2 linked regions of the Homo sapiens genome follow. The protein of the gene in region 1 purifies or fractionates together with the protein of each later gene. This does not show direct contact. Each region holds a gene or a part of one and is shown in the gene's direction. Other genes may lie near its edges.

Region 1 (4,281 bases):
GATATCATCTCACACCAGTTAGAATGGCAATCATTAAAAAGTCAGGAAACAACAGGTGCTGGAGAGGATGTGGAGAAATAGGAACACTTTTACACTGTTGGTGGGACTGTAAACTAGTTCAACCATTGTGGAAGTCAGTGTGGCGATTCCTCAGGGATCTAGAACTAGAAATACCATTTGACCCAGCCATCCCATTACTGGGTATATACCCAAATGAGTATAAATCATGCTGCTATAAAGACACATGCACACGTATGTTTATTGCGGCACTATTCACAATAGCAAAGACTTGGAACCAACCCAAATGTCCAACAATGATAGACTGGATTAAGAAAATGTGGCACATATACACCATGGAATACTATGCAGCCATAAAAAATGATGAGTTCATATCCTTTGTAGGGACATGGATGAAATTGGAAACCATCATTCTCAGTAAACTATCGCAAGAACAAAAAACCAAACACCGCATATTCTCACTCATAGATGGGAATTGAACAATGAGATCACATGGACACAGGAAGGGGAATATCACACTCTGGGGACTGTGGTGGGGTTGGGGGAGGGGGGAGGGATAGTATTGGGAGATATACCTAATGCTAGATGACACATTAGTGGGTGCAGCGCACCAGCATGGCACATGTATACATATGTAACTAACCTGCACAATGTGCACATGTACCCTAAAACTTAGAGTATAATAAAAAAAATAAAATAAAATAAAATAAAAATAAATGAAAAAAAAAAAAACAAAAAACAAAAAAAGAAAAAAAAAAAAAAAAGACCCAAACAGGCCAATAACTATTAGTTATTATCTCTACTGAAAAAGTGGGACTTCCTGTTATGAATAAGGGAACTAACTGAATTCCCTGCTACCTAATTACCTTCTGTAGCTATACTTACTGACAAAAACACCATTAATTTTTTTAGATACCAATTTTTTTTAATACTATGAATCTTAAGGGAAAATGGCTTCACCTCAAAAATACTCTGTTACTTGCTTGGAAGATAGACGACTTTAAGCTGATGCTGATAAACTTGTGGCTTCCAAAGTTTTCCTTACTAATTCTAAACCCAAAAGGTGCCTGGCAGTCTCTGCTATGTCTGTTTCAAGTAACCCTAGCTCTATATCAGGAGACATTTTCCTTATAAACAGAAACATGGTAAATCTTAAGTTCCCTGCAATTGAAATGCTTGGCTGTGAATTTGATTTCATAATCAGAGCGGACTCTATAGTCTTTTCATTCAATATTCCTGCAATTAGATAACCAATCGCAGCCTAGAAACAACCTCCAAGGAGACCCAGTGACATTGCTCCCATAGTTGATGCAACAATCACCATGATGACCCAAGCTTTAATCACTCTGATGAACACTGCTCTCCTGCCTAGAGATACCACTGAGTCCAGAAGCAAGACCTGTGAGAGTGCACAGTGCCACTTCGCCCCATGGCTGAAGATGGTTTGCCCAAAATTTATTCTCATCCTCCAACAGAAAGCAGTAAAACACCAACTGCAGCAACCATTTTCTTTGGGGCTGACAATGCTATTCCCAAATCAGAAACAACTATTACTTCAGAAGGAGACCACGTCACTTCAGTAAATGAATATATGCTAGAAAGCGATTTTTCAACAACTACAGACAACAAACTGACAGCTAAAAAGGAAAAACTCAAATCAGAAGATGATATGGGGACCGACTTTATTAAGTCAACAACTCACCTACAGAAAGAAATTACCTCTCTGACTGGCACTACAAACTCCATAACAAGAGACTCTATTACCGAACATTTCATGCCAGTGAAAATTGGGAATATTTCATCACCAGTTACTACTGTTTCTTTAATAGATTTTTCCACTGACATAGCAAAAGAAGATATCCTCTTAGCTACCATTGACACAGGAGATGCAGAGATCTCAATAACCTCTGAAGTCTCTGGCACACTAAAGGACAGCAGTGCTGGTGTTGCTGACGCTCCTGCCTTTCCACGTAAAAAGGATGAAGCTGATATGAGCAATTATAATTCCTCCATCAAATCCAATGTCCCTGCTGATGAGGCTGTCCAGGTCACTGATTCCACTATTCCTGAGGCTGAAATCCCTCCTGCTCCTGAAGAAAGCTTCACTACTATTCCAGACATAACTGCCCTTGAAGAAGAGAAAATAACCGAAATTGACCTAAGTGTTTTAGAAGATGACACCAGTGCTGTGGCTACATTAACTGACTCTGATGAGAAGTTTATCACTGTGTTTGAACTCACTACCTCTGCTGAAAAAGACAAAGATAAACGGGAAGATACTCTGCTAACTGATGAAGAAACTACCGAGGGAGCCAGTATTTGGATGGAGAGAGATACTGCAAATGAAGCAGAGACCCATTCTGTTTTGCTTACTGCTGTTGAATCCAGATATGACTTCGTTGTCCCTGCATCAATAGCTACAAACCTAGTGGAAGAATCATCTACAGAAGAAGATTTGTCTGAAACTGATAATACAGAGACTGTACCTAAGATCACTGAGCCATTTTCTGGAACTACCTCTGTATTAGATACCCCAGACTATAAGGAAGACACCTCCACAACTGAAACGGATATCTTTGAACTACTGAAAGAAGAACCCGATGAGTTCATGATTTAAAAGCAACAAAAGGGATACCATGTAGAATTGTGCAATAGTCTAGCCAGCTAGCCTTAACATCTAAGAAATTTTTCCAACAAGCAAAAACCTTTAGAAATGAAAGAATGTGGGCATTTAAGGCAAGTATTCGACTCAATAAATGCAGATGCTTAGGACTACAGGTCATGTAACAGATTTACGGAAACTTAGAAAAAAAAACCGCAGTGTAAGGGTCCCCCTAGTATCACAAAGTTTCAATATTCTAACAATTACTTAATGTAAAATTTTTCGTCCTAGCCTTCAGGGAGTATGAAGACAGAGCAATGTAGGGGCTCATTTCTACAACATTTAATGATGCATATCATTTAGTTAACAGTCAATATTATACTTAAGTGAGAATTAAGGATATGAAGAGAAGCAAATTAACCTCTCCAAAACATTACCATAGCCTAAAAAGTTCTCCCAAAATGCTTGTTCTAAGCAATTTTTTCATTAGTATTTCATCAGTGATTCTCTTCTATTTAAAAAATTTTTAATCCTCATATAAGAATTAAGACAATTCAGTAATTGTTTAGCACCCACATGTAAGATACATAAGATTTATGATAGGGTTCTTGGCACATGTTAGATACAAACTAAAGCAAAATGATATTTTACAAATATGCATATTTGTCAGAAAAATGTTCTGTAAACATATACATCAATTTAATTTTCTTTCTGTTAAAATGTGTTTTCTGAATTTTTGTCCATGTTTTCCAGGTCTTAAACACTGAATATCACACTCTTCTTATGACTCTTGTTAGCGATTCAAGGACATAAATCTTCATTCTTTTCTGGCACAGACTACTTAAATGGGTCTGTTTTCACTTTGCTCATTTTTCTTCAATAAATCTTTTTGGCAAGCAACTGATTTACTGTGTGTAGGTGTGTTTGATATTCTACTACAGACTTCTCAAATTAGGAGAAATAAAGAGAAATGAAAATTCATTGTTTGTTTAAAGAATAATATAGCTCTAATCCCCAGAAGTAAAATTATTCTATAGAGATTCATAATTGTATTACACTAAAAAAAGAAATAAGAACAATGCCAAAACACCAAGTGAATGAAAGATATTATGTACGGGGGGTTTGTATAGGGATTTGCACCATTAGATAAACTATAGACTAGAATAATCACAACAGTGTGTTAAAACCCAGAAACAAATTACGAAACAAAAATTTGTTATACAGTGAAGTGGACTTCAAAAACATGGGATATAATAGTTAATCTTACTTGAACAATCAGTATTTGGGAAAAAAATATGTTGGAATAATAAACAAATTTTTAAATTCTTTTTAAGACCATACTTTAAAATAAATTCTACATGGATTAAATACTTTAATGTAAAAACTAAAACCATACAAAAACTTAGGAGGAAATGTACCTGTATATCTATCCAAATGGACCTGAGAAATGTAAGCATATATGAAAAGGTGATAAGAAGATTGATAGGTTTGACACCATGAATAGTTAAAATTCTGAAACAAAGAAAATTAACATAAAATTAAAAAGTAAATAACTAATTTTATTTTACATAGCAGTGAAAAGATTACTATCATTTTTCTATAAAAGTTTCTACAAAGTATTTTAAATGAACAGTAGAAATTAACATAATTCATGAAACACA
Region 2 (3,195 bases), on another chromosome or scaffold:
AGAGTACCTACTGCATTCTAGACACTCTTCTGGGCCTTTTACTTATGTTCTCTTGTTTGATGTTTGTAACATACTACCCCATAAGTGTTATTGTTGCCATTTTACTGTGAGTAAAGAAAAGCTCAGAAAGAAACATGTTTTGCCCAAACAAATACATGATATCATATAGCCATTAAAAAGGCGGGGGCGTCGGGGTCGGGGGTGGGCACATCTCCTAACGTATTTAAGCAACTGTGGTATGGTGATAGAAGCCCTGGATGTTTTAGTTAGAAGGCCTGTATTCTGTCAAGTTTTGTGAGCCAAGGAAGACAATTGACCTCTCTGAAACTCTGTTTCTTCTGTTTAAAAAAGGGATGGTAATACTTATACATCATCAGGTTTTTGTGAGATTAAACAAGCTGCTCTATTTTCTTTATTTATTTTGAGACAGGGTCTCGCTTTGTCACCCAGGCTAGATTGCAGCTGCGTGATCTCGGCTCACTACAACCTTTGCCTCTCGGGTTCAAGCGGTTCTCGGGCCTCAGCCTCCCGAGTAGCTGGGACCACAGGTGTGCACCCCAATGCCTGGCTATTTTTTTATATTTTTAGTGGAGGCAGGGTCTTGCCATATTGCCCAGCCTGGTCTTGAACTTCAGAGCTCAAGCAATCCACCTGCCTCAGCCTCCCAAAGTGCTGGGATTACAGGCACAAGCCACTGCACCAGGCCAAGTTGCTCTGTTTTAAATCACGAAGCTTCATGAAATGTGAAGTATAAAGTAGACATTTTCGTTATTCATTTGAGCTGTTTTCACAAAGAGAAATATAATAATCTAATGTTTACCAAGTATTAGATACTATTGTAAGCACTCCATCTGAATGCATTTCATGCTCATGCTTATGAAGATGCTTAATGCTGAATAGTTAATGAAGATGAAGAAACTGAGGCACAAAGGGGATAAGCAATTTGTTCAAGGTCACATACCTAATAATGGCAGAACCAGGCTTCAAATCCAGGCAATCTAATTCCTGAGCCTATATAACCTAGATATGTTTTAGCAACAAATCTGTTTTTCTTCTTTAATTTCAATGTCATCCATATCTCAGTTCTTCTGATGCTGGCTCTGTCTCAGAATTAGCAAGGCTGAATGTCTTATCATTTTCTTTTTGTCTCAGTAACCTCACCCCTAAAGAGGAGGTCCTGTACAACAATACAAAGGAGAAAGGCAGAAAAGGGCCAGGAGAGAATGTGGAGGTGGGAGAGAACCCTGCATGGTGGAGACATTCCTTGACTGTTCTGTAGGCAGTAACCCAGGCCAGTGTCATCCAGGATGTTTCTGAAATTCTGCTTTTACAAGAGAGAGCTGTGTCACATATTTGGTGCTCAGTGACTAGTAGGCTATGTGGCCTTCACACACTATGAAGCTTTGAATGAAGCTGAGCCTTTATAAATGTTTAGAGTCAAAGGAATTAAAAGCCTAATGTAACCTAAAAGATCATCCCCAATCCCCTTACATTATGGACTTCTCCTCTCCCTCCCCATTGACGTCTTTCAAAAAAAAAGAAACAGAAACAAAACAAATGAAGTTGCCTGCCTAAGACCTGATTCTTAAGCCCTGAGCCTAGAATTCAGGCTTTCTATTCCCAGTGCTATGTTCTTCCACTACTTCATGATTACCATTTGACATCTTCCTTTATAGGGCCACACTGTGAACAACCATTTCTTGGCATTTCAGTAACTAAATCCACTTAGATGAGCTCCCCAGACCACCTTGCATTATACTTTATTTTGCTCTATAGAGAATATGGTTGTTTTTTGGCTTAGAGATTAAGAATTTTGGGTGAAAACCAGAGAATTCTGATGCTCTTCTTCCCCTAATGAAATAACCTAGAGCTGTGCTGATTTAGGAAATTTAAAAGGCTGTTTGGCTGCCAGGGTTCACATGCAAAGCTTTATTTTCTGTACATTATTTTGTAATTAAATGCCTGTGCCCATTTTCAAAATAAATGAACATGGATAACATTTCTTTTGCTCTCTCTCCTTTTCTGTCTCCTTCCCTGTCAATCCCTCCCTTACTTCCCTTCCATTCCAAATCAGGATATTGGCCCTCCTACAATGTTCCTTTCCATGAAAAAATCTACAACTGGAGTGGCTATCCACTGTTAGTTCAGAAGCTGGGCTTGGACTACTCTTATGATTTAGCTCCACGAGCCAAAATTTTCCGGCGTGACCAAGGGAAAGTGACTGATACGGCATCCATGAAATATATCATGCGATACAACAGTACGTAGCATATTTCTCAAGAATCATTCTTCAAAACTCCTTTTCTTCCCTATGGATACAGAATCCATGTAAGTTTATCATCTCTGTACTAGAAGGAATTATAAGAAGTTATTTAAGTATTTAACTAATATTGTACATTTTATACTCAATAAATAGAGCTTTGGCCTCCTTTATAAAATGAAAGAGAAGAGTCTATACATTTTTTAATTGAAAAAAAAAAAATCATCTGTAAAACACAGAAGAAATAACTCATAGAGGGTCCTTTAAAATTTTTCTCCAAACACAAGTTTCCTTCCAAGGATAACAGCAGCTAATAAAACAAAACATTGTTCATAAATACCTCATTTTTTTTGTATGAACAGCATCAAAGTCAAATTTGTATTTATTTTGTTGGAAACAGCTGATGGACGTTTATCTGGTTCTCTTTCCCATCCATTTTTCACTGTGTAAGGTTCTTGAGGGCAGGCTGGGCCTGGGGCCAAGGACTTACTCCTTCCTCACAAGCCAAGGGAGATGTCTCTATCTGGAAGCAGACTGGGCTGAGGAGGCCTGTGGGAGTACACTCTCTGATTATCTAGGCTTTAACAGGCCTCAAAACCTTACTGTGGAGAAGTGTGTCTCCAAATAGCCAATAATCACTCTCTTCCCCATTTCTGTTTCCTAGATTATAAGAAGGATCCTTACAGTAGAGGTGACCCCTGTAATACCATCTGCTGCCGTGAGGACCTGAACTCACCTAACCCAAGTCCTGGAGGTTGTTATGACACAAAGGTAACATGCTATTGGCTTTTGAATTTAATTCCCACCAGCACACAGGCCTCTCCAAAGGCAAAGTTGCACAGGTTTTTATGGCAGGAAGCGATGTCGCTAACCATAAACTCAACCCAGGAATCAGCTTTTTCAGAGATTCTGGTGGTAGGTCCTATTATCTAACT

The links.
Region 2: the proteins of CABS1 (region 1) and PLBD1 purify together in Homo sapiens (affinity purification with mass spectrometry; one large-scale study listed by BioGRID and IntAct). This does not show direct contact.

Annotation. Positions count from the first base shown.
Region 1 is NC_000004.12:70,333,593-70,337,873, forward strand, and holds CABS1 (calcium-binding and spermatid-specific protein 1), read left to right. Parts: upstream 1-1,388; 5' UTR 1,389-1,447; coding exon 1,448-2,635; 3' UTR 2,636-2,754; intron 2,755-3,373; 3' UTR 3,374-3,524; downstream 3,525-4,281.
Region 2 is NC_000012.12:14,505,998-14,509,192, reverse strand, and holds part of PLBD1 (phospholipase B-like 1 precursor), read left to right. Parts: intron 1-2,074; coding exon 2,075-2,260; intron 2,261-2,924; coding exon 2,925-3,031; intron 3,032-3,195. UniProt on the Homo sapiens protein: In view of the small size of the putative binding pocket, it has been proposed that it may act as an amidase or a peptidase.